Linked DNA regions of Homo sapiens: regions 1, 2, 3, 4, 5 and 7 are each linked to region 6. The links come from fine-mapping of genetic effects on gene expression. A gene starts in region 6. Each other region holds a variant in brackets. All regions are shown on one strand. Distances are between the middles of the regions. Region 1 overlaps PNPLA7 (patatin like domain 7, lysophospholipase). Region 2 holds the start of EXD3 (exonuclease 3'-5' domain containing 3). Region 3 overlaps ENTPD8 (ectonucleoside triphosphate diphosphohydrolase 8). Region 4 overlaps EXD3 (exonuclease 3'-5' domain containing 3). Region 5 holds the start of TUBB4B (tubulin beta 4B class IVb). Region 6 holds the start of NSMF (NMDA receptor synaptonuclear signaling and neuronal migration factor). Region 7 overlaps EXD3 (exonuclease 3'-5' domain containing 3).

Evidence for each region.
Region 1: its variant is fine-mapped to the expression of NSMF in whole blood (TOPMed, PIP above 0.99).
Region 2: its variant is fine-mapped to the expression of NSMF in whole blood (TOPMed, PIP above 0.99).
Region 3: its variant is fine-mapped to the expression of NSMF in whole blood (INTERVAL, PIP above 0.99).
Region 4: its variant is fine-mapped to the expression of NSMF in whole blood (TOPMed, PIP above 0.99).
Region 5: its variant is fine-mapped to the expression of NSMF in follicular helper T cells (Schmiedel 2018, PIP 0.95).
Region 7: its variant is fine-mapped to the expression of NSMF in whole blood (TOPMed, PIP 0.99).

What each region holds. Positions count from the first base shown.
Region 1 is chr9:137,496,994-137,501,053 of GRCh38, forward strand. PNPLA7 (patatin like domain 7, lysophospholipase) reads right to left here. Exons shown (of 35, transcript NM_001098537.3): 16 at 3,698-3,903; 17 at 1,121-1,252; 18 at 194-317. Among named protein-coding and RNA genes, the nearest start is that of NSMF, 40 kb to the left of the region's middle. The variant T/C (reference allele first, on the strand shown) is at 2,482.
Region 2 is chr9:137,419,844-137,423,903 of GRCh38, forward strand. It overlaps EXD3 (exonuclease 3'-5' domain containing 3), which reads right to left and starts at 3,319. Exons shown (of 22, transcript NM_017820.5): 1 at 3,271-3,319. NOXA1 (NADPH oxidase activator 1) reads left to right here and starts at 3,550. Exons shown (of 14, transcript NM_001256067.2): 1 at 3,550-3,863. The coding sequence starts at 3,687. It also overlaps the pseudogene LOC124902354. RefSeq lists silencers at 2,911-3,050, 3,061-3,200, 3,221-3,780. The variant A/G (reference allele first, on the strand shown) is at 2,134.
Region 3 is chr9:137,435,759-137,439,818 of GRCh38, forward strand. ENTPD8 (ectonucleoside triphosphate diphosphohydrolase 8) reads right to left here. Exons shown (of 10, transcript NM_001033113.2): 2 at 2,402-2,547; 3 at 2,209-2,326; 4 at 1,401-1,551; 5 at 1,111-1,270; 6 at 763-993; 7 at 255-518; 8 at 1-71. The coding sequence starts at 2,527. Among named protein-coding and RNA genes, the nearest start is that of ENTPD8, 3.6 kb to the right of the region's middle. RefSeq lists silencers at 287-541, 503-552. The variant A/G (reference allele first, on the strand shown) is at 2,268.
Region 4 is chr9:137,381,427-137,385,486 of GRCh38, forward strand. EXD3 (exonuclease 3'-5' domain containing 3) reads right to left here. Exons shown (of 22, transcript NM_017820.5): 3 at 1,887-1,951. Among named protein-coding and RNA genes, the nearest start is that of EXD3, 40 kb to the right of the region's middle. The variant C/T (reference allele first, on the strand shown) is at 1,948.
Region 5 is chr9:137,239,329-137,243,388 of GRCh38, forward strand. It overlaps TUBB4B (tubulin beta 4B class IVb), which reads left to right and starts at 1,959. Exons shown (of 4, transcript NM_006088.6): 1 at 1,959-2,089; 2 at 2,393-2,501; 3 at 2,583-2,693; 4 at 3,168-4,060. The coding sequence starts at 2,033. RefSeq lists silencers at 984-1,803, 2,134-2,363. The variant C/A (reference allele first, on the strand shown) is at 2,004.
Region 6 is chr9:137,457,176-137,461,235 of GRCh38, forward strand. NSMF (NMDA receptor synaptonuclear signaling and neuronal migration factor) reads right to left here and starts at 2,159. Exons shown (of 16, transcript NM_001130969.3): 1 at 1,857-2,159; 2 at 1,313-1,374; 3 at 232-726. The coding sequence starts at 1,927. It overlaps PNPLA7 (patatin like domain 7, lysophospholipase), which reads right to left. Exons shown (of 35, transcript NM_001098537.3): 34 at 3,459-3,562; 35 at 2,777-3,301. The coding sequence ends at 3,218. RefSeq lists enhancers at 343-1,040, 3,864-4,060 and silencers at 1,680-1,949, 2,040-2,389.
Region 7 is chr9:137,390,879-137,394,938 of GRCh38, forward strand. All of the region lies in intron 2 of EXD3 (exonuclease 3'-5' domain containing 3), which reads right to left. Among named protein-coding and RNA genes, the nearest start is that of EXD3, 30 kb to the right of the region's middle. The variant T/C (reference allele first, on the strand shown) is at 1,636.

The DNA.
Region 1 (4,060 bases), 40 kb after region 6:
AGCCGCGGGGAGTCCCCCCAATGGAGGCAGAGCCCGGGGCTCACAGCAAAGCGGCTGCGGGGCATCACTACTACCATCCACTCCTGGGGCTTTTGCTCCCAAGTAACTGGCCAGGCCACACCCAGGCCAGAACCCAGGATGCTCTGGGAGGGATGCAGAGGTGGGGGAGGCAGGAGCAGGGCCCAGCACCTACCACGCCGACGAGGTCTCCTCGGCCGTACTCCCCGGCCAGGCGCTTCTTCCCATCATCCTTCCGGATCACAGAGCGCAGCCGGCCGCTGAGCATGATGTACGTGCAGTCGGACTTGTCCCCCTGCCTGCGGAAGACACAGAGGCCCTGCAGCCCTGGGCCCCCAGCCTCAGCCTCCACACCCAGCTTCCCAATGCCAGACAGACTCAGGATGGAGAAAAAGAAAATGCAGGCTTCTCACTATCTTATTTTTGTTTTGGAAAACATATTTTTTATTTTAAAATATTTATGTTAACAGGCCTGGGTTGTTTTAAATGAATATTCTAAAATTGTCTTGGTTTTAATTATTATTATTATTTTTTGAGACGGAGTCTCGCTCTGTCGCCCAGGCTGAAGTGCAGTGGCACGACCTCGGCTCACTGCAACCTCCACCTCCCAGGTTCATGTGATTCTCCTGCCTCAGCCTCCCAGGTAGCTGGGATTATAGGCGCACACCACCACGCCCAGCTAATTTTTGTATTTTTAACAGAGACAGGGTTTCACCCATGTTGGCAAGGCTGGTCTCAAACTCCTGACCTTGTGATCCACCCACCTTGGCCTCCCAAAGTGCTGGGATGACACGCGTGAGCCACCACGCCCAGCTAATGGGGCCCTTTTAAAGGGACGGTGTGGACTTGAATATAATGACACGGAGAGATGCTCATAGAACATGGACTATGTCCAAGCGTGTGTGGGTGTCATGAAATCCAGGAGGCCACGAAGTGTGTTTCCGAGCTAAGCTGGGGTGGGGCTGGGGAAATCCAGCCTTCCATGTGTGGTTTCCACAGTAACTTCCGTGTGTGGTTTCCACGGTAACCGTGCTTTGCCCATCCCCAGCTCCTGCATGCCAGGGCAGCATGGATGCGGAGTGTGTGGCACCCACGGCCTCACCTGTATATTGCTCGCCCGGCCTCCACCTCCACCCAGTCCAGGGCAAAGTCGATTTGCCGCACGAAGGACGACATCCTCTTCACCACAGTGTGCGCCACACCCAGGACGACGGTCGGCTGCTTCCGCATGATTCTGCCGGGCAGCCCAGAGTCAATCCTGCCCCATCCCTCCAACCCTACCCTTCGCCCAGGGCCGCAGTGCTCGGGAATGGATGGGACCCACAACCCCCACCCCACCCGGAAAGTAGAGAGACCACTGGCAGGGGCTGGGACGGGGCACGCACCAGTCAGCTGCCTGCCCCACGGCACAGCACTGCCCACCACGTGCCCAGTGGCCAGCAGCTGTTGGGGAGCCCAGAGAGCCCCCTCCTGGCAGGCCCGCGAGTGCCCCTTGGACACGGGCCCTGTGTCAGGCTGCGGTCCTGGCAGGGGACTGCACATGCCGTCAGGAGCTGCATAATGCACACTCGGGCCGTGGGTGTGGCTGGCAGTGAGTGCCGTGAAGGGCACCAGCAGGCAAAGGCAGAGGCTGAGAGACCCATGGGGCCTGGATAGCACAGGGTCTCTCCTGGGTGGGTGGAGGGTGGCTGGGGCCTCTGACCCGGGGAACACTGTTCTCTCCCCGGTGGTCGTGTGTGGACAGACTGTCGAGGGTGAGGGCTGCAGCAGGGACGTGCCCAGGGGCTCTGGGCAGTGGCGAGGTGGGACGTGGGGCAACCTGCACCAGGTGTGAGAGTGACGCCGGGCGACTCCAGGCCTAGCCTGAGCCACAGGCAGGTGGAGCTGCCATTTCCTCAGAAGGCAAAAGCAGGAGGAAGAGCAAACGTGGAATCAGGATCTGCTTTGCACAGGAGGTGGGGGAAGCTGGGGAGATGGCAAGACAGTGGCTGGGTGAGGGCGTGAAGGGCGTGAGCGTGGCACTTAGAGCCCTGGGGGTGGAGGAGGAGCCCTGGGATGCTGGCTGGGGTGACGGCTGCAAGGCACACCATGCACGGACACACAGGCAGACACACAGACACACACAGACACACGGAGACAGAGACACTCGCAGACACACGGACACACGGAGACACACGGACACAGGCAGACACACAGGCACACCGAGACACACACAGACACACAGACACACACAGACACAAGGAGACACACATGGACACATGTAGACACAGAGACAGACACACGGACACATGCAGACACATGGAGACACACAGAGACACACGCAGACACACGACACACGCAGACACACAGATAGACACACAGCACGGGGGGACTGAGCTGCATTAAGGCTGAGGGCCCTGAGCTCTGCCCTGGGTGGTTCCTGTCCCTGCTCTTCGCCATCCGTCCTGATCTCCCTGGCACTGA[T/C]GTGGAGCAGCTGGGGATGCTCAGGAGGGAGATGGGTCCAGCTCCACCCAGGGTCCCCTGCTGGTGGAGGGACCGGGACTTGGAGCCTCAGTCTCCCCATCAGCACGCTGCGGTGTCAGGGCACCCGGCATCGGGACCTGGCTGGAGCCACTCAGGCCAGGCCTGGAAGACAGAGGCCATGCAGAAAGCCCTTCCCAACTGGGCCAGGGCCCCGCTGCCCCCACCCCTGCCCCTTGCCCGGCTCGGGGTCCCCAGGCTGAAGCAGCAACGGCGCGGTGCCATTTGCTGGATTACAGGCGTGAGCCGCTGCACCCAGCCGACCTGTTTTCTTCAGCTGCTGTGCTTCCACTGACCTTCAGGCTTCTGACCTCTCCTGCTGCCCAACCACTCAGGCAGAAGAGCTCTGAGACCACAGCAGACATCTGGCCTATGAGGGTGCGGAGGACTTCCAGAAAACACACACAGAACGGCTCAAGCCACCAGAGGCGAGAGCTGGGGTTAAACTGAACCCCAGGCTCCAGGAGATTCTGGACCTGACAGAGCAGAATGCCCAGTGCCGTGGATGCAAAGACGTGGCGGCTCTGCCAGGCAGCCACAGGCGGGCCGAGGGCAGCTCTGGGCCTGGAGGGGCCAAATCTGAGACTTACGGGCTGGGGTCAAGTGGACAGATGTCTTCCAGCCCGGAGCCTGGAAGGCGACACGGGCACATTCTGCCCCAAGAAGGGACACACGTCAGTGGGGCTCCTCCCCCGAGCCAGAGACGCGTCCTCACCCACTGCCTTGCCCTTCCACCTCCGCATCACTGGCTCCCGACACGTCAGCCCAGGCTGCAGAGGTGGGACGGCTCACGGCCCCTGAAGCCCGGCCCTGCCCCAACGTGGGCCTTGCTGAGCCAAGCTGGGGAGCCCCAGAACTGACCAGTGATAAATGGACACGGCTGAGACCAGACCACAGACCAGTGATAAATGGACACAGCTGGGACCAGACCACAGAGACGGCCGTGCGAAGCTGATCGCTGCGGGCAGGTGGGGTCGGCTGACTGAGCGCTGGAGCAGGGGGCACAGACCTGGGCCCACACAGGTGCCGGGGACAAAGAGGGGAGCCCGAGAAGCAGGGAAGAGGGTGAGAGCACCAGGAAGAGGCCGGCCACGCGGGGAGGGGTCTCAGGGCAGGGGGGGCTGGGGCCCGCCCTGAGGTCCTGGCCCGTGGGACTCACTCATAGAAGTGGGCCTTGGAGATGGACAGGAAGCTGCAGTCCCTGTTGGCCTTGACGGTGAAGATGAGAGGCTCCCCGGTGAGCACGGCCAGCTGGCCCACCATCTCCCCGGGGCGCGTGAGGAACAAGCAGGTGTCCTCCTGGCTGCCGATCTTCCGCTGGTACACGTGCAGCAGCCCCGAGACCACGAACAGGATGCTGGCGTCCTGACACACGAGAGGGCTCAGGAGGCGCCGCGAGTGGCCGCGGGCAGGACGGGGGCAGCTCTGGGCCCAGAGCGGACGATGCCACCAGGCTCAGCCGGGAGACCATCCGCCGACCTGATCAGCTCTGGGCATGGACTTCACTGGAAACATTTCGGCA
Region 2 (4,060 bases), 37 kb before region 6:
AGGATTGTTAACCCAACATCATACAGAAAAAAGCGGCCGGGCGCGGTGGCTCATGCCTGTAATCCCAGCACTTTGGGAGGCCAAGGCGGGCGGATCACGAGGTCAGGAGATCGAGACCATCCTGGCTAATACGGTGAAACCCCATCTCTACTAAAAATACAAAAAAATTAGCCGGGCATGGTGGCAGGTGCCTGTAGTCCCAGCTACTCGGGAGGCTGAGGCTGGTGAATGGCGTGAACCCGGGAGGCGGAGCTGGCAGTGAGCCGAGATTGTACCACTGCACTCCAGCCTGGGCGACAGAGGGAGACTCCGCCTAAAAAAAAAACAAAAAAAACCCCAGCAAATTACATAGAACTGAACTGATAGAGGCCTGAAATGCTTTTTATGATTTTTTGTTGTTATCGAAACCTTGCTGACTCTTTTTATATTTTGTTTTCCAGAGTCAGAAAACCTTTTTCTTTTTGAGCTATTTATAGCTATAGCAATTGAGTGACATATACTTTTGTGAGCAAAACTGAAATATTTGTCTTTTTCTCTACCTGATTTCTCAAAAATCTGGAAGCGATTCATGAGTATTCTTATTTTATGGCAATGTAGTTCTTTGCATGAGTTCAGTAAGAATCTGTTGTCCTTGTAACAGGACACAATTGGAGACCCTGGTTATTCTACCAAGGCTTGGACTGGGATGACGTATTTTTGGATATGACGAGACTGCTTTGAGGAATCGAGGTTCGCTTTATAGAGCCAATAAAAAGCCCCTTGGGATGACTGGACTGGTGCCCTGTTTACATAGTTCCCTTAAAAGGTTCTTGGCCTTGAGGTAAGGAAAGAATGTCACTTTCCGACAGATCCAGGAACTTCAAGATAGTTTGGGACCTGGAGGACAGACATTCACCCCCCCCCCCAAATTCATACAGGTATTATACATACACTGTGATGGGGAGCCACTGGCTTGGCTTCCTAGACATGGGAAGTGTTTGTTTTGTTTAGAGACAGGGTCTCGCTCTGTCACCCAGGCTGGAGTGCAGTGGTGCGATCATAGCTCACTGCAGCCTCAATCTCCTGGACTCAAGCGATCCTCCCATTTCAGCCTCCTGAGTAGCTGGGACTACAGGTGAGCACCACTATGCCCAGGTAATTTTTAAATTTTTTGTGGAGACAGGGACCTCGCTATGTTGCCCAGGTTGGTCTCAAACTCCTGGGCTCAATGAATCCTCCCACCTTGGCCTCCCAAAGTGCTGGGATTACAGGCATGAGCCACCATGCCCAGCCCTCAAGTGGCTTTTAAAGGTCTATTCTGACCCTCTTGTAGTTCATAAGCATGATGATTGCCTCATGTGTAGGGTCTGTCTCCTTCAAACGCTGTTATGACGCCAGCACATTACCTGTCTGATGTGGGGAAAAAAAGTCTGAAATTCCTTATGGCAAAGTTCCAGCCAGTTTAGAAAGGAGCCTATATGGCCAATCACCACTGTTGTACTTTAGGCAAATAATCAGGCCAAATATAATCCTAAAATTTATTTTACAAGTAAATTGGTCTTACCAAGATTTATCTTTGGTAGAAATGGGGAAGTAGAGAAAAATTATGTTTCAGAGAAAAACTACAGCATACCTGTTACTGGATTCTAGCCCTGATCATTGTATTTTTTATTTTCCTACAATCTGGACTAAATCCTGAACAATCTTCTGGCTACAAGTCTCAAAGAAGAACCTGGCTGGGCAGAGGTTCACACCTATAACCCCAGCACTTTGGGAGGCCCAGATGAGAGGATCACTTGGGCTCAGGAGTTCGAGACTAGCCTGGGCAAGGTGTCAAGACCTAGTCTCTACCAAAAAAATTTAAAATTAGCCGGTCCTGGTGGCAAACACCTGTATTCCCAGGTACTCAGGAGGCTAAGACAAGAGGATCATTTAAGCCCAAGAGTTCAAGGCTGCGATGAGTGGGAATCGTGCCTCTGCACTCCAGCATGGGTGACAGAGCAAGACCCCATTTCTAAGTAAACAAATAAATAAAAAGAAAGAAGAACATGGATTTTAGTTTCTTCATGTTTTTAGTTGTCTCCCTAATGGAACAGGTTTGTTTTTTTCATCCTGGCATACAAATTGGTTATAGTCCTATGTGTTACTTCTGAG[A/G]AAATTAAAATTAATGGTGTTTCTAAAAACTAGAGATGATTCAACAGGTGACAGCAGTTGTATAAATTAATGACTTCACTGAGACCTCATGTTTGCCACCCTGTAATGCCATTCCAATTCAGTTTGTGGTGTTCTTAAAAAAAAAAAAAAAAAAAAAACTCCCTGAAATGTCTCCTCCTTCCCTGCTTGGCATGGGACAGGACTATGTGGGAATGAGCCTTCCCAGCAAGAGGGGACACTCTGACCCTCAGATTTTGATAATCAATGCTTTCAAGAAGAAAGATTTTGATCAAAAGGGGGGCAAATGAGAAAGAAAAAAATCATTTATCTGAGGAATGTAAAGCCCTTTTAAACTGTGGGCCCAGAAAGCTTGATGTTAAGTGCCAGAAAGCATTTCAAATGAAACCGCAGCCCCTCACTACCCCTCGAGCCAAGTAACTATCCACTGATGACACCAAGCCGTGGTCAATCGCGAACCAATGCCATTTCTACAAGCCAGTGAGCTCCTGGGCAACGTTCGAAACCACCTGCTCTCCGATGGGCTCTGTTTTCTTTAAAAACCTGAGCCTCTGTTTTGTTCTCCGTTGCACCTGGTGACCCAGGCCGCCCTCGACCTCTGTGCCTGAATAAACCCACCGGGCACCACATTCTGACCCTTTTAATTATTTTAGGTTGACAACTAATACAGGACTCAGCGCCGGTGGACAGGAAGCCAGGGCCCCTGCAGGGAGGCGCCCGTCCCTTCTCCCGGGGAGGGCAGGGCGGGCGCGCGCGCGTCCCACCGGGAGCGCCTCCTCCTCGGCGAGGGAGCGAAGGGCCTCCGGGTCCTGTGATGTCCGTGCTCGGAAGGCGCGGAGGAGGGCAGGCCCTGCGGGACAGGGCGGCGGGGTCGCCGGGGTCGGCTCAGCTCCCCGCGGCGTCCGGCTGCTCGGCGGCCTCCGGAGCGGGGCCCTGCGGGAGAACGCACCTTCCCCGCCCCATCGGGGCCTCAGTTTCCCCACCCCGGGAGAGCCGGCGGCCCGCCCCCGGCTCACTCCCAGCTACGGCCCTCACCTCAGGACGCGCACCCGGCCCGGCCCCGCTCTGCCCCCGGCGCCCAGACCGCCCACCTGGCCCGCGCGGCCCGGGGTCGCTCACCTGCGGGGCCGGGACCGCCCCACACCGTCCACGCCCGGCGCGGAACCTTGGCCCGACCGCAGCCGCTGGCCCGGAGGGCTTTATCCGGCGCACCAAGGCCAGCGCGGGCGGGGCGAGGAAGCCGGGCGCACAAAGCTCCCGGCGGAAGTCCGGCCGGGGCGGGGGCCGAATGGGAGGTGGGCGAGGCCTGAGGGTCTGGAGTGGGCGTAGCCGTTTCTGGCGGGGGCGTGGCCTTACCGGGGAGGGGCGGGCGCCTGCCGCCAGGGGGCGCCGCGGGGCAGCGGGGTTGCACCTGGCGCTTGGCGCCCGCACCTCTGCCCGCCTCGGAGACCCCGCAGCCCCGCGCCGCCGCCTGGCCCCGGCCCCGGCCCCTCCGCGGGATCCTGGCCCCTCCTCGAGCGCCGCCACCGGCCGCCATGGCCTCTCTGGGGGACCTGGTGCGCGCCTGGCACCTGGGCGCGCAGGCTGTGGATCGTGGGGACTGGGCCCGCGCCTTGCACCTCTTCTCGGGCGTCCCGGCGCCGCCCGCCAGGCTGTGCTTCAACGCGGGCTGCGTGCACCTGCTGGCCGGGGACCCCGAGGCCGCGCTGCGGGTGAGCGGGGCGTGGGGAGGCCGGTGCGGGCGACGCCTCCGCCTCGAGCCCCTGGGGAGGGCCCAGCGCCCCTCCCCGACCGTCACGGGGTCGCCCTGCCGCCCCCGACCCAGCGAACGCCCCGGCAGGTGGGAGCCGAGCAGGGGGGCCGCACCTGAGCTAAGCGAGGCCGCGCTGGGGGGCGCGGCGGTCACCGG
Region 3 (4,060 bases), 21 kb before region 6:
TTGACCGTGCTCAGGGGCTGCCTGGAGGTGAGGTTCAGGAAGTGGAAGGTGTAGTAGAAGTTGGAGAAGGCCTGAGTGAGAGGGGAGGTGGCTGTGCCTTCGCTGTGGCCACGCTGGGCCAGATCCACCCCACCCGGGCTCCCAGAGCCCCTAAGAGCCAGCCTGGGCCCCTCCTGGGCCTGCTGGAGTCAGACAGGCACCTGAGGCCTCACAAGGAAGCCCGGACCCCTGGTGGGGGCAGTGTAGGTGCTCACATAGAACTGGCCCCGCAGCGGGGGCTGGTAGACCCCGTCAAAGGCGCAGTCCTCCTGGCCCTGGCAGCTGGAGAAGTTGAAAAGTTCCCGGATGGCTGAGACGCAGGCTCCAGGGTTGCCTGTCCCTTCAACTGTGAGGTTCTGGGGGAGGCTCAGCGGGGGCGTGGCGTGGACACAGGGTGACTCATACAGCGGGCCCAGGGCCAGTGTGGTCTGGTAGCCGCTGAGGTAGCACGGGTGACGGAGCAGGGCAGCCGGGCGGCTCTGCAGAGGGCAGGGAGGCCTGAGCACCAGCCGCACACCTGCGGCCCTGTGCCCCTCCCCGGGGCCGGATGACCCACGCCAGCCCCGCGCCCATACCCTGTGCGCCCTCCCCGGTGCCGGATGACCCACGCCAGCCCCGCGCCCATACCCTGTGCCCCCTCCCCGGGGCCGGATGACCCACGCCAGCCCTGTGCCCATAGCCCTGTTCCCACAGCCCCATGCACCCTCCCCAGGGCCAGCTGACCTGTACCAGCCCCACGAGGAGCCTGCTCAGCATCTGGTCCCGTCCAAAGCACAGGTAGCTGTGAGTGTAGACGCTGTAGTCGGAGCCGTAGAGGCGAAAATCGGCCTGGGTGCTCTTGTCCAAGATGGGGCCCCCAGGCACGAACGTGATCTGGGTGGAGGCCCCTCCCATGTCCAGGGCACCCACCAGCATCTCCTCCGGAGGCTGGATCCATTCTCCAGTGAAGGAGTACTGGGCACAGAAGGGGCCACTCAGCTGGGAGCAGCCACCCGGACCCCGTCCCGGTCAGCCAGCCCCAGACACCAGCCCCTCGCAGACCAGCCCCCGCCCTCAGGCAGCCTGTGGCACCTTGACCAGCGTCCCCAAGCCGTAGTTGACAGTGATCCAACCAAAGGCACCTTCGGCCTGCCCGGCCAGGAGCTCGGCACCCCAAAAGTCCACGGGAGACCGGCCCAGGACCTGGGTGACTGCTGCAAAGATGTCCCTGGCCTGAGAGCTGTTCTTCCGGCTGGGCACAGAGGACCAGGGGCTGGAGCTGGCTGGAAGCCTGGGCCCGGCCCCACCCTGCCTGCCACGCTGGCTGAGACCATGGCTTCTGCAGCCACTCCCCGTGGGTGCCAAGGCCATGCCTGCCTCACCTGAGCAACCTCATGCCAGCCGTGGCCCCCAGGAACGTGGGTGTTTTCCGATGCTGGGCCTCTGGGATCAGCACCAGCGCCTCCTCCAAGCAGCCCTGCAGGCTCTCACCAGCCTGTGCAGCATTAGAAGTGTAGGAGGAGATTCCAGGCCCTGGAACAGCAGCCGGGGACAGAGCTCCAGACCCCGCAGGCTGGCTGGGCTGAAAGGTAGCCCCCAAAGACATGACCACCTCATGCCCCCTGGTGCAGCCACCAGCCAAGGGCTGCGTGGAGTGCTCAGGCTGAAGGAAGCAGGAAGGACCCTAACCCAGAGCCTCTGGAGGGGGTGCGGCCCTGTCCACACCTTGTTTTCAGACTTCTAGAATGCTGAGAAATAAGCTGCTACTGTTTTAAGCCCCCAATTTGTGGTAATTTGTTACCAGAGCCCCCAGGAAACAAATTCGGGGCCTCCTGTTTTCCCCTCTCAGGATCCTGGAGTGCAGGCACCCCTGTAACTACCAGCCTCGGCTGCCAGCACCACGTGGTGCCAGGGTGGGGAGCACCAGGGGCCAGAGAGGGTCAGGGCTGGAGGCAGCAGATGCTGGGCAGACCCAGGCCAGGCCATGAGAATCTGACTGCTCACCAGGATCAGGCAGGGAGGTCCCCAGAGTGCCACCGCGTGAACGCAGGCTCCGGCCCAGCACCCATGCCCGGCGTGTGAGCTCAGCCAAGTCACTGAACCTCTCCAAACCCTTTCCGTGCAGCTGGGAATCCCAGCCAGGCAGCAACAGGCAGGTCCCAGCACCGGGCTGCAGAACAGCCCACTAACCTTCCACCTGGCAGGCCAGGGCCTGGCTGACCACACCCGTGCCATTCTCCTTGTTCGCC[A/G]GCCACTGATACAGGAAGAGGGACGTGTGGGAGGAGCCCGCATCAAACACGATCCCAAACTGGGGAGACAGTGGGATGAGTGGGAGGCAACACCTGTGGACCCGGCCCGGCCTCCCCTGCCGGCGGGGACGCACCTTGATGTCTGTGGGCAGGAGCACGCTGGTGGCCTCCACCAGGAGGAGAATGAGTGCCGTGAGGCCTGAGACCCCCGAGGCCCCCAGCAGGGCCAAGAAGACCTGCTCCTTCCGGGACAGCCCCATGGTGCAGGTGGTACTGGTTCCTGTGGGGGGACGGCCGTGGGCACCCAGGCTGCACTTGGTGTCCCCATCCCGCCCTCCAGAGGCAGAGGCTTCGCTCCCCGTCTCCCTGGAGACGCACCCCTGGACAGCCACTTGCCTTAGAGGCATCTCCGGGGCTCAGACGCCTCCCGTGGCCATAGAGGCATCCCCGGGGCTCAGACGGTCTCCCGTGGCCTTAGAGGCATCTCCGGGGCTCAGGCGGCCTCCCGTGGCCATAGAGGCATCTCCGGGGCTCAGACGGCCTCCCGTGGCCATAGAGGCATCCCCGGGGCTCAGACGGCCTCCCGTGGCCATAGAGGCATCCCCGGGGCTCAGACGGTCTCCCGTGGCCATAGAGGCATCCCCGGGGCTCAGACGCCTCCCGTGGCCAAGGACCACTCCCCAGGAGCCACGCCTGCCAGGGGTGCCATGGGCATCAGAGGGCCCTGTGGGAGGGGGGCGGGGGGCAGCAGAGGCCTCGTCTGGGGACACAGCCCCAGCAGGATCCAAGTAGCCCCCTCGGACCCCCTCGGATGGGACTCGCGGAGCTGCCCCCACCATGTGATGGGGCCACCCTGTGTCCCCACCCCTCGGTCCTGCCTCTCCCGTGCCACCCTCCCCAGGAGCAGCCACAGCTCCAGCCTGCACTGGGGGCCCAGGGCTCTGCCTCCTCTCTGCGGCCCCCACCCCAGGCACTCCTAGGGTGGGGGTTTCTCTCTGGAGCCCTGAGGGGACTGTTGCCGAGGGGCTGTGGGTGAACCCAGGGTGAGGCCAGCCATCCTAGGAAGCCGAGTGTGAGGCTTCTTAACAACATCGGTTTCTCTGGAAATCCAGCCCAAGGCTTCCCTAATCTGACTCTGCACCTTCTTAGCTGGTGCCAGATGGCGCCTGGTCGGGAGGTGGACCCAGGGATGCCATCTGAGGGGCCTGGGCTTCTCTAGCCCTGTGGCCGAGGTGTCCACCTCCTCCTCTGCCCAAACGCCCAGCAAGGGTCTCAGCTCTCAAACTACCCCAGGCCGACCCTGTGCCCCATACAGCCCCACTTCACACGGGTACCACTGCCAAAGGAGTGGTCAAAGCCAGAGGCTGCCTGCCAAGGTCCCGGCACCTGAACCCCATGTGACCGTGTCCTATCGTGTTCCCCCGGGAAACGTTGCACCCACACTGAGTGGCAGGCGCGGGTGCTGCCCTGGTCCTGACCTGGGGCTCCTGGGCACGTGGAAAGTGGGACACGCTGTGGGGTCCTCACGCAATTCTGTATGTCCGGGGGATATAAGCCCATTTTAAGGAGGGTAGATGACAGAGGCTCAGAGAGGACAGGAGGCCGGTCCAGCCCAGACAGGGCCCAGCCTGTGTCCCCAACCAGCACCCAGGCCATAGGCCACCTCATAGGGACAAACAGGTGACAGGGGCCAGGAACACAGGGACTCCACACCCAGAAGATGTAGCCACCTGAGACCCCCAGGCCTGAGCCTCCAGGTAGGCAAAGAGGTTGGGGCAACCTCTCCCACACTC
Region 4 (4,060 bases), 76 kb before region 6:
AAAAAAAAAAAAAGACAGGAACACCCCACCACAGGCTGCTGGGCAGTGGGGCTGGGAAGGGCCCAATGAACCAGGGGAGCCCCACTCTGGGAGTGCGCCTACTCCAGGCCCTCACCCCGCCCCAGCCCTGCCTCCTCCTCCTGCCCGTCTCCCAGGCTGCTCTCACCCGCCCGGTGTGCTGGCTCCTCTCTCACGTTAGAGGAACACCTAAGCCCTCCCAGACGGCCAACAGTCCCATTGCCCCCTTTATACTGCAGACCGCCCCAAGGAGTTCTCCAAAATCCTGGTCTTCATCTCCCTCCTCTGGGGGCACCCGGCGTCTGTGCCACCATATGGGGGTCCCCAAGACCTCCATGTGCAGCCGGCTCTAGGGTTGGGCTTCTCCTCAGCACCCAGGACCCCCAAGGACCCCATCTTCAAGGCTCCTGGCCCACCCAGGGCCACTGGGCATGTGGCATTCGCCAGCTTGCTGGAATCCGGGAATGTGATGGAGGCGCGAGGAGGAGGTGAGAGCACGAGGAGGAGGTGAGGGCGCAGGGAGGAGGTGGGAGCACGCAGAGGAGGTGAGGACGCGGGGAGGAGGTGAGGACGCGGGGAGGAGGTGAGGGCGCGGGGAGGAGGTGAGGGCGCGCGGAGGAGGTGAGGGCGCGCGGTGGAGGTCAGGGCGGCGGTGGAGGTCAGGGCGGCGGTGGAGGTGAGGGCGCGGGGAGGAGGTGAGGGCGCGGGGAGGAGGTGGGAGCATGCGGAGGAGGTGAGGGCGCGCGGAGGAGGTGAGGGCACAGACACAGGCCCACCCCATGAAGATGAAATGCCTGACGGCCTCATGGCTGTCAGCGGAGCCCGGAGCAGATCTCAGCCCTGTCTGTGTATAAACAAGCGCTGCTCCAAGGAGACGCCAGGACGAATGTCAGGACATAGGGAGGAAAGGACAGTGGAATCCCACAACTCAGACACGTGGGGGGCGGGGGGCAGAGGGCGGGACCCGGGGAGGCTCACACCACACACGCAGGTGCCAAAGAGCGAGGAAGACTGAGCGTCACAGACGAAGGTCCGACAAGAGAGCCTGGAAATGGAACGGCAGAGGGAAATCTCAAAAGCAAGGACAGAGATTCACAAGCTGGAGGCCCAAGAAGCCACCGAGCTGATGGACAAACGAAAGCTGGCAGAGGTGGGTGCAGGAGAGAGGCAGACACAGGAGCAGGCAGCGCCAGGGCTGGGGTCAGAGGGCATCCCCCGGGCCTGCAGGGGTGACCTCAGGCCAGTGGATGTGGCACTCAGAGGAGCTGGGCTGGGGTTGGAGGGCGTCCCCCGGACCTGCAGGAGCGACCTCGGGCCAGAGGACGCGGCACTCAGGACTTGGCAGCTTCCTGTGCACAGGCCATTGCCACTAAGGAGCCGGAATCCGCGTCTGCCCCCACAGGGGGCCGGCCCTCCCTCTGTAGCCTCTCCCCTGGCCTCTCCCGCCCAGCCTCCTGCCCTGCTCAAGTCCCACCCCTTCCTAAGGCCTCCCTGTCCTGGACACCTGCCCCAGTGGCCACCCGGGCCTGGGTGCTCTGGCGGTGGCAGGACGGGGCCTCAGGCCTGGCAGTGCTGGCGACAGCTGTGTCCCTGCAGGTGAGTGGCCCCTGCGCCTCCCAGAGGTGACCTCAGAGGGGCTGCTGGGGCCAGGCAGTGCCTTTACCACCCTGGGGACTTGAGGAGGACCGCCCCCTGCCCCACACAGGCCACCCTGGAGGCGGTCTGGGGCAGCAGCTGTGCAGGACCCTGTGGCCGTGGGGGGCTGTGCAGCTTCCTGACCAGGGAGGCCTCCTGTTAGGCCAGTCTCTGCCCAACAGTCAGTTCTGCTGGCTGTGACTTGGCACGTGGTGGCTGCCACGTCCACTCACCTGCTTCCGCTCCCGCGTGGACCACAGGGTCTGCAGGGCCTGCAGGAGCAGGAGGGGGTCC[C/T]GGCCTGTGGAGATAAGATAACAGCCGTGGGAGGGAGAGGCAGGTGCAGGGGCTATCGCACAGCCCGCCGGGAAGTCCCTCCCACTGACCCGCAATGCCTGGGGCTCCTCTGGACCCGGGGGGCCGGGAACCCTCCCCCACCTCTGTCTGGCACACACACAACACACCTGCCAGCTGCGGCAGCACCCACCCTGTTCCTTCCCTGTGGCCCGTGGCCGCCCATCCAGCTGAGTCCGCCCAGCAGCACTTCAACCACGCTCAGCCCTGGGAGCTGGGCCTCATCTTTCAGCTGCAGGTGCAGAGCAGCCCTCGTGGGCCTGAGCCTCTACCTGCTCCGCCTGGCGCCCTCGGCAACCTCATCAGCATCTTCTCACCCAAACCCTGCACCGCAGTCCTGGCACCACGAGGACCCCAAGCCCCTGCCCTCTTTAGGTTTCGGTCCCCGGCCCTCCCGCGCCGCCCCCTCCCTCCAGCCCCGCCTGGGAGGCCCCCGACCTCACTGCAGCAAAAGTGCCAACCAAAGACGCTGCCCCACACGGACAGGGCCACCAGAGCGAGACCCGAGGGAGGTTTCCAGACAGAACCCAGGGGCTGCGTGGCTTGGCTTGGAGGCCGGTGGTGCAGGGGAGTGGAGACCCACTCAGGCCTGGTCATGTGGTAGGGTCAGGGTCGGAGGCCAGGGAGGGGCAGGTGCCAGCAGGGACTCCACAGGGGAGGCCTGAGGACAGGAGCCTGGGTGGATTCCGCAGTGAACTCCCCCTGGACCTGGGGGGCTGTGGAAGCTGCTGGGCCCCCCTGCAGGGCAGGACGGGAACAGGGAAGGCCCCGTGTTGCTGCGAGGGAGGCTGAGGACTCACATGAGATCAGATCAGACCTCAGCAGCTGGATTCTGCCACACACGCCAGAGAAGCGTGTGTGACGGGGGTCACCCCAGAGAGCCAGGCTGACTTAACAGGAGAGTCCAAGGTTATGATTCAGCCCAGGACCGGAACGGAGGAGAGAACCACGTGGCCCTTTCGGTAGACACAGAGCAAGTGTTCTAAAATTCAGTTCAGCTCACAATTTAAGAAATAACTCACCTGGGACGGGCAGGGAGCGCCCTGAACTGGGTAAAAGCCATGGGCGAGCGTGAGACGTGGTGCTCAGGGCAGCACGTAAGGATGCCACAGCCCGGCCTGGAGCCGTCCCAAGCAGGTGGCATCCAATGCAGAAGGAAAACAGAAACATCAGGACCGGCCGACAATGTGATTGATTACACAGAAAGCCACGAAGGATCAAAACTACGCCGTTAGAATTAACCAATGGGTTCGGCATCAATGCTCAGCACAAGCCAAAATGAGAAAATCAGCAATAAACAGAAATGGCCATTTCAAAAATCACTTACAACAGCATCAGCAATGTCAGATTCCCTGGGAGAAATGTAACAAAAGCAGCTCATGCAAAACAAAACCCAGCCGGCTGTCATCTCAGCACTTTGGGAGGCCGAGGCAGGTGGATCATTTGAGGTCAGGAGTTCGAGACCAGCCTGGCCAACGTGGTGAGACACTATCTCTACTAAAACTACAAAAGCTAGCTGGGCATGGTGGCGGGTGCCTGTAGTCCCAGCTACTCGGGAGGCTGAGGCAGGAGAACAGCATGAACCCGGGAGGCGGAGGTCGCAGTGAGCCGAGATCGGGCCACTGCACTCCAGCCTGGGCAACAGAGCGAGACTCCGTCTCAGACAAAAACCAAAAAACCATAAAACACCGTGGGGCGCCCAGGCTCCACCATGGCGTCTCTGCAGCCACCTGGGCCTGGGTGGCACAGGCCAGTGTTCCCGTCTGCGCTCAGAACCGTCCCACCATCGTGCACAGTGTGCTGCATACAGAGGCTGAGAACACTCAAATGTCCACTGTAGGAGGACGGAGCAAGTGCATCAGCCCCGGGACGATGCCCAGGTGGGGAGGACGTACCCCACCACGTGGCCATGGCAGGCAGTGTGACTGGCCCCGCATTCTGGGTGCTGCATGCTGGGCATGGCTGGCGATGGGGCCAGGGTGGGCTGGGCGGGGCGTGCTGTGGTGTGTTCACGATCATGTGCCGAGCCGCATCATGTGCTCTGCGTTCCTTCCTA
Region 5 (4,060 bases), 220 kb before region 6:
CTACAAAAATACAGCCAGGTGCAGTGGCTCATGCCTGTAATCCCAGCACTTTGGGAGGCCGAGGCGAATGAATCACAAGGTCAGTTCCAGACCAGCCTGGCCAAGATGGTGAAACCCCATCTCTATTAAAAATACAGAAATTAGCCGGGCGTGGTGGCGGGCGCCTGTAATCCCAGCTACTCGGGAGGCTGAGGCAGGAGAATCGCTTGAACCCGGGAGATGGAGGTTGCAGTGAGCCGAGATCATGCCACTGCACTCCAGCCTGAGCGACGGAGCCAGACTCTGTCTCAAAAAAAAAAAAAAAAAAAAATAGCCAGGCGTGGTGGTGCACACCTGTAGTTCCAGCTACTTGGGAAGGTGAGGCAGGCGAATTGCTTGAACCGGGGAGGCAGAGGTTGCAGCGAGCTGAGATTGCGCCACTGCACTCCAGCCTAGGCGACAAGAGCAAAACTCCATCTCAAAAAAAAAAGAAAAAAGCTACAAAAATGTAGAAGGCACGGCGGCTCATTCCCGTAAATCCGAGCACTTGGGGAGGCCGAGGCGGGCGGATCACTTGAGGTCAGGAGTTTCAGACCAGCTTGGCCAACATGGTGAAATCCCATTTCTACCAAAAATACAAAAATTAGCGGCGTGGTGGTGGGTGCCTGCAGTCCCACCTACTGGGGAGGCTGAGGCAGAAGAATCGCTTGAACCTGGGGGGGGGCGGGGAGCCAAGATCGCGCCACTGCACTCCAGCCCGGGAGACAGAGCGAGACTCTGTCTCAGAATAATAAATTAAGTAAAATAAAAATGCTGCAAAAATACAGCCCGTTTGTTTTTAAACAGGCGCAACCACATGTAATTCATTTTAAGTTTCTTTTCCCACCCAAGTAAAAATCAAGTCATAAATTAGGAAAAGCATTAACAGAAGTATGTTTCAGCCCCAGCGCGCTGACCTGTGGTTGGAATACCGGCCCTGGAGCCCGGAGGTCGGGGCCCACCCGCCGAGGGAGGTCTGGGCGCTGTCCTGGTCTCCACGGAGCTCGCGCACTCACGGGGCCGAGGCACCAAGGCGACCGGCGCAGAGCCAGCGCCGTCTCCACAACAGGGCAGGGCGCGCAGCTGCGGGGGAGGCCTCGCCCCTCCGCTCCCCTCCCCTGCCCTCCGCCCCGGCCCTCGGGGCGCGGCGTCCCCCACGTGCTCCCCTCACGCGACCGCGAGGGCAGTGGGCGTGCGGCACCCGGGAGCAGGAAACTCCGTGGCCTCTGCGGCTCTGTGGAGAGCTCCCCTCCACCGCCGCAGCCCCCGAGCCCGTGTATCTTCCTGCCTTTAAGGCATCGCAGCCTCCTCGGCCTGGAGGCCCCGGGCTCGCTCCGTGCGGACCCCGCTCCAGAACCCGCCCAGCGCGCAGATGCCGTGTCCCGGCGCAAGGCCAGAGAGGGCGCAACTCTGGACGTGGGGCCGCCACCGAGCCTGCCCTTCCCGGCTCCCGAAAGGCCCCGGGCTCAGAGCCAAGACTGCGCTTGCCCGAGGCCCGTCGGGCCCGCCCTCCCTCGGCGCCCCCAGCGCAGCTGCCCGCCGCCCGACCGGAAGCCCGCACTCGCGCCTGCGCCCCACCCCGTCCGCGCGCCGGCCGCGGCACTGCGGCGGTTACCAGGACGCTGAAGCAGCGCAGCCAATAGCGCCAGCCTGGCGGCGTGCTCCCGGCAGCCAGCCAATGAGACGGCAAATCAATCATTTGAAACACCCAATGGACGGAGCACTGCGGCGCCAGGAGGGGGATTGTGATAGGGAGATAGGAGGCTGCGGCTGACCAATAAAGACCAAACTGGCTTAAAAAGGCGGACCTTAGGCAGCTTGATTGACGGGGGCAAGGCCAATCAAACGAGGGAGCTTGCCAGCCTCGTTCTGGCAGCCCATTCCGAGACTAGCGGAGGCGGGCAGGGAGGGTATATAAGCGTTGGCGGAGCGTCGGTTGTAGCACTCTGCGCGCCCGCTCTTCTGCTGCTGTTTGTCTACTTCCT[C/A]CTGCTTCCCCGCCGCCGCCGCCGCCATCATGAGGGAAATCGTGCACTTGCAGGCCGGGCAGTGCGGCAACCAAATCGGCGCCAAGGTAAGTTGCCGGGGCGCTGGGGCCAGGCGGGCCTGCCGGGCGGTGTGGGCGGGCGGCCGGGGAAGATGGCGGCAGCAGCGGCCGGGCGGCGCCCCCGCATTGCGGCCGCCGGGCCCCCTCCGCGGGGAATTGGCCGAGCCGGGCGACCGAAGCCCCCAGGAACCCGGCGGCCAGGGCGCGCGGGGCGGGGGAGGGGCGGGGAGGGCCGGGCTGCCGCGCCCGTCCGGGGCGGGGCTGCCTCCCTGCGCACCGGCCGCGGTGACTCAGCCCCGGCCCGCCCGGGCCCGCCCGCGTCCCTTGTAGTTTTGGGAGGTGATCAGCGATGAGCACGGCATCGACCCCACGGGCACCTACCACGGGGACAGCGACCTGCAGCTGGAACGCATCAACGTGTACTACAATGAGGCCACCGGTGAGGCCCCGGCCCCTTCCCCGACCGCCCTCCGGGGACCCCGCGGCCCCTGCCTTGGCTGACGCCCTCCCGTCCCCGCAGGCGGCAAGTACGTGCCCCGCGCCGTGCTCGTGGATCTGGAGCCCGGCACCATGGACTCCGTGCGCTCGGGGCCCTTCGGGCAGATCTTCCGGCCGGACAACTTCGTTTTCGGTGAGCCGTGGCTGGGGACTGGGCGGCGGCTCAAAGGTCAAGGGGCTGCTCCAAGGGCACCGCCGTGGGAACTGCGCAGCCGGGGCCCCTGGACGCCCTCCTCTTCTCTGAGCCACTCAATCCCCTCTACTAAATCGGCTTTGGGAGCAAGGTCCAGCTGTCTGCCGAGGCGAGGAGCCGCCACACACGTAATCTCCCTGCAGGGAGCTGAGCTGGGGCAGTGGCTGTTCCTCTGTCCTTGGGAATTGGCAGTGGCCCCCCCGGGGAGGGGTTTGTTAAGCTGTCAGGTTTGGCCCCTGACTTAATTCGTAGCAGGGCAGGCTGCCGTCTTTTGGCTTTGAAGGGTCCGTTTGCTCTACCTCCAGGGTGAATTCTGTGGTCAGCTCACACCATGTCACTCGGCTTTTTTCGCATGGCGGTGACCAGTAGTGCTGTCTACCTGGCTGACAAATGATTAGCTGTGTTCTCTCACAGGTCAGAGTGGTGCTGGGAACAACTGGGCCAAGGGGCACTACACAGAAGGCGCGGAGCTGGTGGACTCGGTGCTGGATGTTGTGAGAAAGGAGGCTGAGAGCTGTGACTGCCTGCAGGGTTTCCAGCTGACCCACTCCCTGGGTGGGGGGACTGGGTCTGGGATGGGTACCCTCCTCATCAGCAAGATCCGGGAGGAGTACCCAGACAGGATCATGAACACGTTTAGTGTGGTGCCTTCGCCCAAAGTGTCAGACACAGTGGTGGAGCCCTACAACGCCACCCTCTCAGTCCACCAGCTCGTAGAAAACACAGACGAGACCTACTGCATTGATAACGAAGCTCTCTACGACATTTGCTTCAGAACCCTAAAGCTGACCACGCCCACCTATGGTGACCTGAACCACCTGGTGTCTGCTACCATGAGTGGGGTCACCACCTGCCTGCGCTTCCCAGGCCAGCTCAATGCTGACCTGCGGAAGCTGGCTGTGAACATGGTCCCGTTTCCCCGGCTGCACTTCTTCATGCCCGGCTTTGCCCCACTGACCAGCCGGGGCAGCCAGCAGTACCGGGCGCTGACCGTGCCCGAGCTCACCCAGCAGATGTTTGATGCCAAGAACATGATGGCTGCCTGCGACCCCCGCCATGGCCGCTACCTGACGGTTGCCGCCGTGTTCAGGGGCCGCATGTCCATGAAGGAGGTGGATGAGCAAATGCTTAATGTCCAAAACAAAAACAGCAGCTATTTTGTTGAGTGGATCCCCAACAATGTGAAAACGGCTGTCTGTGACATCCCACCTCGGGGGCTAAAAATGTCCGCCACCTTCATTGGCAACAGCACGGCCATCCAGGAGCTGTTCAAGCGCATCTCCGAGCAGTTCACGGCCATGTTCCGG
Region 6 (4,060 bases):
CGAAAGCGGACTGTGAGGCCTGGCAGATTTTGCTGAGGAGCTGAGGGAGCTCACAGCTCATAGGGTGTGGAGGCCGCAGCAGAAGCCTGCCGGTTTTAATCTTGAGTCCGCTGGCATGCTGTGACCTGAGCACCTGTTCTCTGTTCCAAGCCTCACAGTGGCTGCTGCTGTCAGACCCTGGCAGCGGCATGCACCCCCAAACCTGTCTATGCCCTGACACAAACCCCTCACCAGACACACGGTCAACGCTGTACATCCTCTCCAGCTTCTTGCGGCGACCGGAGGTCTCAGGCAGAGGTGGCTGGTCCAGCCCAAAGGCCCGAGGGGTGGGGCCAGGAGCCAGCTGGGCACATCCGGGGCACTCCTTGGAGCCCTGGCGGCTGCCCGCCCAGCTCTGGCAGGGCCTGCTGACGTCCTCCCGGCTGCCACCAGGGCTGGCGCGCAGGGGCTGGCTGTGATGGTGAGGGTGCCGCTGCCGCCGCCCCTTCACCACCGCCAGCTCAATGGCCTCCGCCTCAGGGCTGGGCAGCAGGGCAGGCTCCCCAGAGATGGTGTACACTCGAGGCTGAGGGCCCTCGCCTGCGGGCTTCCTAATGCTGGGCTCCTCTGAGAGGCTGCCCTCGTAGCAGCCGTTGGAGACGAGGGACAGGCGGCGCTTGTTCTGGGGGGCCGGCTGCATCTCGGGGGACCCGTCGTGGCCAGAGTAGGCATCAGCCAGCAGGTGATCTAGGAGAGACACTGAGTGAGCCTGCCTGCCGCGTGTGGGCCCCCCGCTGCCGGTTTCATAGCAGGCCGAAGGCAGAGAACACCCAGTGGGCACCTGGCCTCTGTGGGGGACTAGGGCTGCCCAAACCCTAGTCACTGGCGTGTTTCTGAGCCCCTCACTCCTATCTGGGCCTGAAGCTCTAGCATGTGCGTGGGGGCTGGGTGACGCTGTGCTACCTGTGTGCGGTCCTGCCGGGTAGGAACACGCAGGCCATCCCCCAGCCTGCGATCGCACCGTTTGCCTGGTGCCAACTTCCCCCTCCCCCCACCAGCTGGCCCCCAGAGGCAGTGGTGCCAGCCCTGGGGGAGCCAGGAGGCCTGTTGCCATGCCAACGGCCCAGGCGGGGTGGGTGCCATGGTGACGAGCGGCTGGGAACTGCTCCTGGGGCTCGGGCAGGGAGGGCAGGGGATGTAAGGAAGCCAGGCCGGCAGGGCGCCGGGCCCACGCGCAACCAATGCCCCTCACGCTCCACCCCCGGAGGCAGGGATCAGCATCCCTTGGGCTGGGGGGTCTGGGCGGCCCTGGCACGGCCTCGCGTGCCCCTACCTGCGCCGTTGCGGTTCTCAGGGTGACTCTGGGACAGGTACTCTCCAAACGCTCGGGCTGCTCTGAGGGTGGACAGAGGGCACGGTCAGAGGCCACGGCACGACCCTCCCAAACACCGGGCCGCGCAAGAGCCGGGGGTCCGGTCCCCAGCCAGGCCCTCGGCGTCTGGAAGGAGGGTCGGGGTCGTCCCCCTCCGGGAGCCCACACACCCTTGGTCCTGGTGCGCCCTGGCCAGGCCTGCAGGCCCGGCCCCTGCCCGTCGGACCGTGGAGAGGGGTCGCGAGGCCGGTCGGCTGCTGTTCCCCGGGGGAACCGAGGCCACTCCCGACCTGGGGGGTGCGCTCGCCCACCACGCGCTCGCGAGGGGAGGGGAGGGAAGAGCAGGGCAGGGGACCAGGAAGAGGGAGGCGCGGGGCGCGGGGAGGGCGCCTCAGTGGCAGAGGCCGGGGCCCGGGAGCCCGGGGAGCACCGCGGGGCAGGGGCGGACTCGGGCGGGGTCGGAGGTCCAGGGCGGGGTGCGGGAAGGCGGCCCCGCCGCACTCACCGCACTTTGGCCGCCACCGAGGACATGGCCTCGCTCCTCAGCGCCCTCCTCCTGGAGGCGGCGGCGCCCATGGTCGAGGCGGCGGCGCATCCCCCGGGCCTCAGAGCGCGCCCCGCGCCCGCCGCCTCCGCCGGGGTAGCCGCGCCGCACCGGGGGTCGCGCTCGGGCTCGGGCTCGGGGTCTCGCTCGGGCTCCGGCTCGGGCTTGGGCTCGGGGTCGGGCTCGGGGTCGGGCCCGGTCCCCGCATGGCCGCACCCGGCGCTCCGCGCGTGCCGCCGCTCCCGGGAGAGCGCTGCCCGAACCGAGGGCCGGCCCCGCCCATCGTGACGTCAGGGCCCGGGCGGGCCCAGAGGGGCGGTCGGCCCCACCTACCGTGACGTCAGGGCCCCGGAGAGCTCGGAGAGGACATGTGGCCCCGCCCACCGTGACGTCCGGGCCCGGGTTGAGTTGGGGGCGGGGCCGGGCGGCCTGGCTCCGCGCCCTCTCGTCCAGGCCTCCAGAGCGGGGAAACTGAGGCCAGCGGCCCCCTGGTCGCAAAGTCCTGGGCCCTCGGCCCTCACGATCTGCTGCTCAGACCTGCAGGATCACAGGGAGGCCGGTTCTCCCTCCCCTTACACAAAAGGGCTCCCTGTGCAGTTTGGGAACTGGAAACCGAAGGGGAAGCCAGTTTAGGGGGCACCCAGTTTGCACGAGGCCAGAGAGAGACAGAGGGGCCCGTCCTGGTCCTGGGGGGCCACAGCTCTATGCAGACTCTGGACGCCCTACCTGCCTGGCCTGCATTTGCCGCCCTAGGGCTCTCAGGCCCCAGCAGTGGGGTCCTTTGAGGAGGACTGGGGACTGCCCAGCCTCAGGGACCACCCGCATCAGGGAGAACCAGTAGTGTTTCTTTGCCACAGGGACCTCGGCCCGGGAGACACGTCCAACAGTGAGATCCACCTTTATTGAAACATCACACGGCAGCATCAGGGCTCCCACACCTCACAGGGCAGCAGGCAGTTCACAGGACAGCAGGCAGTTCACAGGGCTTTGGGGGCCTCACAGGGCAGCAGGTGGTTCACAGGGCTTCGGGGGGCCTCACAGGGCTTCGGGGGGCCTCACAGGGCTGCAGGGGGTTCACAGAGCTTCAGGGGCCTCACAGAGCTTCAGGGGCCTCACAGGACTGCAGGGGGGCTCACAGGGCCCTGTATGCAGGGCTGCTGGTACAAAGAAGAGGCCCAGAGAACCCTAACACAGCCTGGGGCCCCGGGGAAGTCAGGGCTTCCAGCAGGGCAGGTACAGAGGCCCCTAGGACTTGGCAGGAGCCTCAGCCTTGGGGACAGTCCCACGGAAGACGCTGCATCCGGGCTCTTTAGCAGAGGCCTCTACCCGTCCTGGTCAGAGGAGCCCTCAGACAGTTTTGGGAAAGCCAGACTGGGGTGTCGATGCCGCAGTGAGGACTCGTCCTCCTGCAAGCAGACCGCATGTTCCAGGTGAGGACCAGGCAGGGCAGGGGCTCTGCAGCGCTGGTAACCCGGTGGGACCACAGGGAGGGAGTGGCCGGCACAGGGCCAGGCACCAAGGCTCAGCTGTGGGCACCAGGTGGGACCATGCCCAGCTCCTCACCAAGTCTGAGCCCTGCTGGGCTGAGGTGCTCTGGAAGTCTGCGTATGCATCCCTGGGGACGTCCAGCAGCTCCTCCTCGTACTCCGTCTGGTAGTCAGATTCGTCTGGCACCGAGGGTAGGGCTGCGTCAGTCCCCTCCCAAGGAAGGGACCGTACCCAGCATAGCCACACTCAGAGGCAGAACCGGCCACAGATGCCCACCCCCGCCTCCAAGGTGGCCCGGGGCCCTACACGCAGCCACCTGGTCCCAGGGCAGCCCTGCACACCACCCCTGGTTCTGTCTGGCTCCAGCTTTGCCCCAGCACATCACTTCGTGGGTCTTCCACAAGGACAAGGAGCGGGCAGACACTCCTCCCCTTGTCAGCCAAGCACCCTGAGGGCTCCAGCACCCCAGACCTGGCAACTGTGGATAGGGGCTGCCTTGCCCAGGGCCCTCTCGGCCTGCGGCAGCCATGAAGACGTCTCCCAGGAGAATGTCCAGTTCTGCTGTGAGGAGGCCACTGGCTGAAGGCCCAAGCGCAGGGCCCTGGATGGAGCATGGAGGGTAGTGGACCCGCCCTTCTTGTCCTGCGGCCCCTCCAACAAGCAGCCTTCATTCCCAT
Region 7 (4,060 bases), 66 kb before region 6:
GGCCAGTGGACGCTGAGGGCAGGGGGTGAGGACACAGTGAGGGTGGCTCAGAGGCTGCCACAAAGTGCCTGTGACCTCGTCGTGGGACAGGGACAAGCCCGTCCCCAGGGTCCTGGAGGCAGATCTGGTGTCCACACCTCTGGGGGACCCATGGTGGGGCGGGGGTGGCCTGCTCGGCATGGAGAGGGGCAGGGCAGCCTCGGCAGCTTCTCCTTACCCCCCTCCCAGCAGGGCCTCGGCCGCCGCCCTTCCTCAGGTGTCCCCACGTCCACCCACAGCCACAGCCCACCAGTGAGGCCTGAGAGGGAGGCGTCTCCAGGAACCCGCACGTTCACGGTGCATTACGAGAGCGGCATGCGCTCATCACGGAGCTTCGTAGGAAAAGTGGCCTCTCCTGCGGGCCCTGCCCTGTTCACCGCCGTGTCCACACTGGGCGGGTGCCGAGGAACCCGTCTGGAGCGTGGACGCTGGATGTGAGGCTGGCCACGTCCCCAGCCCCAGGCACCTCAGCAGGCCCAAGCTGTAGGGCATGGGTCTCCTCCGGGAAGCCAGGGCAGCCTCAGCCTTGGAGGCTCCCATTGTCCGGAGCCCAGCAAGATGGGGAGGAGCGGCGGATGTGGAGGGAAAGGGAACCCAGGCCGGCAGGCTTCCTGGAGCTGCTGCATCTGCCAGAGGGCCGGCCTCCCCGCCCCACCCCACCGCCCGCCGGCCCTGGTGATTCCTGGAGCTGCTGCCTCTGCCAGAGGGCCGGCCTCCCTGCCCCGCCCCGCCCCGCCTCGCCGACCGCCGGCCCTGGTGCCCAGCTGCAGTTTAATGCCGTCTGTGGGACTCTGAATTTCCCAAGGAAGGCTCAAGCGCCGCCTGGAAACCCCGAACCAGGTGGACGTGGGCAACGTGGACTTTCTGACCTCAACTGCGCCTGCTCATGCAAAAGCTGAAGTTTTTTATTTTTTTTGAGATGGAGTCTCGCTCTGTTCCCCAGGCTGGAGTGCAATGACACAACCTCGGATAACTGTAACCTCCGCCTCCAGGGTTCAAGCAGTTCTACTGCCTCCAAGCCATTCTCCTGCCTCAGCCTCCCCAGTAGCTGGGAATACAGGCGCCCGCCACCATGTCCAGCTAATTTTTGTATTTTTAGTAGAGACGGGGTTTCACCATGTTGGCCAGGATGGTCTCGATCTTCTGACCTCGTGATCCTCCTGCCTCGGCCTCCCACAGTACTGGGATTACAGGCGTGAGCCACCATAATCCTGGCCGTGAGCCTGGCCAAGGCTGAAGTTTTAGGAGGAAAGGAATCTGTGAGCGCAGTGGACATTCGGATGGGAATGTTTCTTGGCCTCGGGGGAGGGAGAGAGGAACAGGAGCTCAGCCCCCTTCTCCTGTCCCGATGATGCCTCCTGACCCAGCGCGGGAGGGCCTCTCTAGAACACGCCAGAGGTGGCCATGTGGACTCTCCTCCAATGACCTGGACCAGGCACTCTACCTAAAAGGACAAACCCAGGCCTGGCTGTCGGGGGCAGGGTCCCAGGGGCCACAGACGCGGATGTCCTGCTCAGTGACCAGGGTGGCACGGACAGGTGTCCAGGCAGCGAGGCGGGGCCAGCACAGGGGCCAGGACACCTCCTGGGAAGAAGC[T/C]GACCCAGAGCCTGAGTAGGGGAGCCCACTGGGGAGGGCTGAGCTGGGGCCTCTTGTGGAGCTGGCCTTGTTGACAGAGCTGGACACGAACCATGTAAGGGCAGATGCCTAAAGCAGCACAGAAAGGATGGGGGGATGTGGCCATTCCAGGAAGCGCCAGGCTGTTCCAGGGGGTGCTGTGTCTGTTCTGGGGGGGCTGTGTCTGTTCCAGGAGCACCAGGCTGTTCCAGGGGGCACCGAGGCTGTTCCAGGGGGCACCGAGGCTGTTCCAGGGGGCATCGAGGCTGTTCTGTGGGGGGGCGCCGTGTCTGTTCCAGGGAGGGCCATTAGTGTTCCAGGGGGCACCGAGGCTGTTCCAGGGAGGACCATTAGTGTTCCAGCGGGCACCATGTCTGTTCTGGCGGGGGGCCGTATCTGTTCCAGGGAGGGCCATTAGTGTTCCAGGGGGTGCTGAGGCTGTTCCAGGGGGCACCGAGGCTGTTCTCGGTGGGGGTGCCGTGTCTGTTCCAGGGAGGGCCATTAGTGTTCCAGGGGGTGCTGAGGCTGTTCCAGGGGGCACCGAGGCTGTTCTCGGTGGGGGTGCCGTGTCTGTTCCAGGGAGGGCCATTAGTGTTCCAGGGGGCGCCGAGGCTGTTCCAGGGGCCCTGCTAGCTGGGGTGTTGCACTTTGAAAACATCCCACTCTGCTTAGGTGGAGAAGAGGCTGTAGAAGCCTGTGGGTGCCTGTGCAGGGAGAGTCAGCTCTGTGCTGAGGCGAACCCAGGGTCCCATGCGCTCCCCGGCCCTGACGGCGGTCTCCAGGGGAGGTAACAGGGCCTCATCCCACACAGGTGCAGGCCCGGGGCCCGCAGATGGCCTCAGAGGAGGCGGTGGATGAACGGAAGGGTGAGGGGGTCTGGGCCCATCCCCAGAGGGGCAGGTGTGTGGTCAGGGCCCCACAGGACAGCCAGGGTTGTGCCTGCTGAGGGGGCCACATCCACACCAAGCCCCGCCCAGCTCAGAGGTGGCCCCTCCCCGAGCACACGCTGACCTGGCTACATCAGGGAAGGCGACATGCCCGGAGGTGCCCCCACAGCCCTCAGCACCCACTGGGACACAGAAGAGGAAGGCAGAGAGGAAGCCCCTGGAGGGGTCCAAGGCCCGAGGAGGCAACTGCGTGGGATAGGGAAACTGAGGCAGAGAGCCTCAGCTGCTGCCATGTGGGAGCAGGGCTTTCACAGAGGGGAGGGCCATGGCCCTGCCCCATGGAGGGGCTGCCAGGCAGGGCATGTGTAGGGTGGAACTGGGCAAAGGCCAGGGGGCGGTGAGTGAAAAGGCAGTAAACCCACAACAAACTGAGGGCCTGCAGCCCAGGGCGAGGCGGCTGGGCCAGGGCCTTACAGCTCTCACTGCTGTTTACAAGGACTGCAGGGTGAAGGATGTGAAGGGGCCCCGGCACCCCCTTCTCACCCTCTGCCCACAAAGCCATGGCCCCGGACAGCTCCCACTGGGGCCGAGCCCCTGCCAGGAGGCTTCCCGCCCCAGCCCGTCCCCGGCACAGAGAGCAGCTGAGGCTCGGGCTGACCCCTCTGGCACTAGGCAGCTCCACTCCTTCCCAGCCGCCGCTTCCCTAACCCCAGCCTCCCAGCCTCCATTTCCCTAACCCTGGCCTCCCAGCCTCTGCTTCCCTAACCCCAGCCTCCCAGCCTCCGCTTCCCTAACCCCGGCCTCCCAGCCTCCGCTTCCCTAACCCCGGCCTCCCAGCCTCCGCTTCCCTAACCCCGGCCTCCCAGCCTCCGCTTCCCTAACCCCGGCCTCCCAGCCTCCGCTTCCCTAACCCCGGCCTCCCAGCCTCCGCTTCCCTAACCCCGGCCTCCCAGCCTCCGCTTCCCTAACCCCGGCCTCCCAGCCTCCGCTTCCCTAACCCCGGCCTCCCAGCCTCCGCTTCCCTAAGCCCGGCCTCCCAGCCTCCGCTTCCCTAACCCCGGCCTCCCAGCCTCCGCTTCCCTAACCCCGGCCTCCCAGCCTCCGCTTCCCTAACCCCGGCCTCCCAGCCTCCGCTTCCCTAATCCCGGCCTTCCAGCCTCCGCTTCCCTAACCCTGGCCCAGTCTTCAGCTTGCAGGGTCTCGATCTGTAGGAACAGGAGGGAGAGAGGCTGCACCTCCCCTCGGGCTGTTTATCCTCAGCACTGAATCTGGCAGGGCAGCCGAGCGAGCGGGGATGCGGCCTCCCCGGCTTTGCCCACAGGGAAGGTGCCTCTCATTTCTCTTTTTTAACCTGAAAAAGCTGCTGGGAGGGCAGATGTTCTTCTTAACTCGAAGGGATGAAAAATGCCTCAGTTTAAAAAACTAGGGACCCTGGAGGCCACCCTGGAACCGCCCGAGACCCAAGAGGCTGTGGGTTCCCTGAGCCCCCAGTGGCGGCGCTAAGCCCCCAAGGGTGTTCC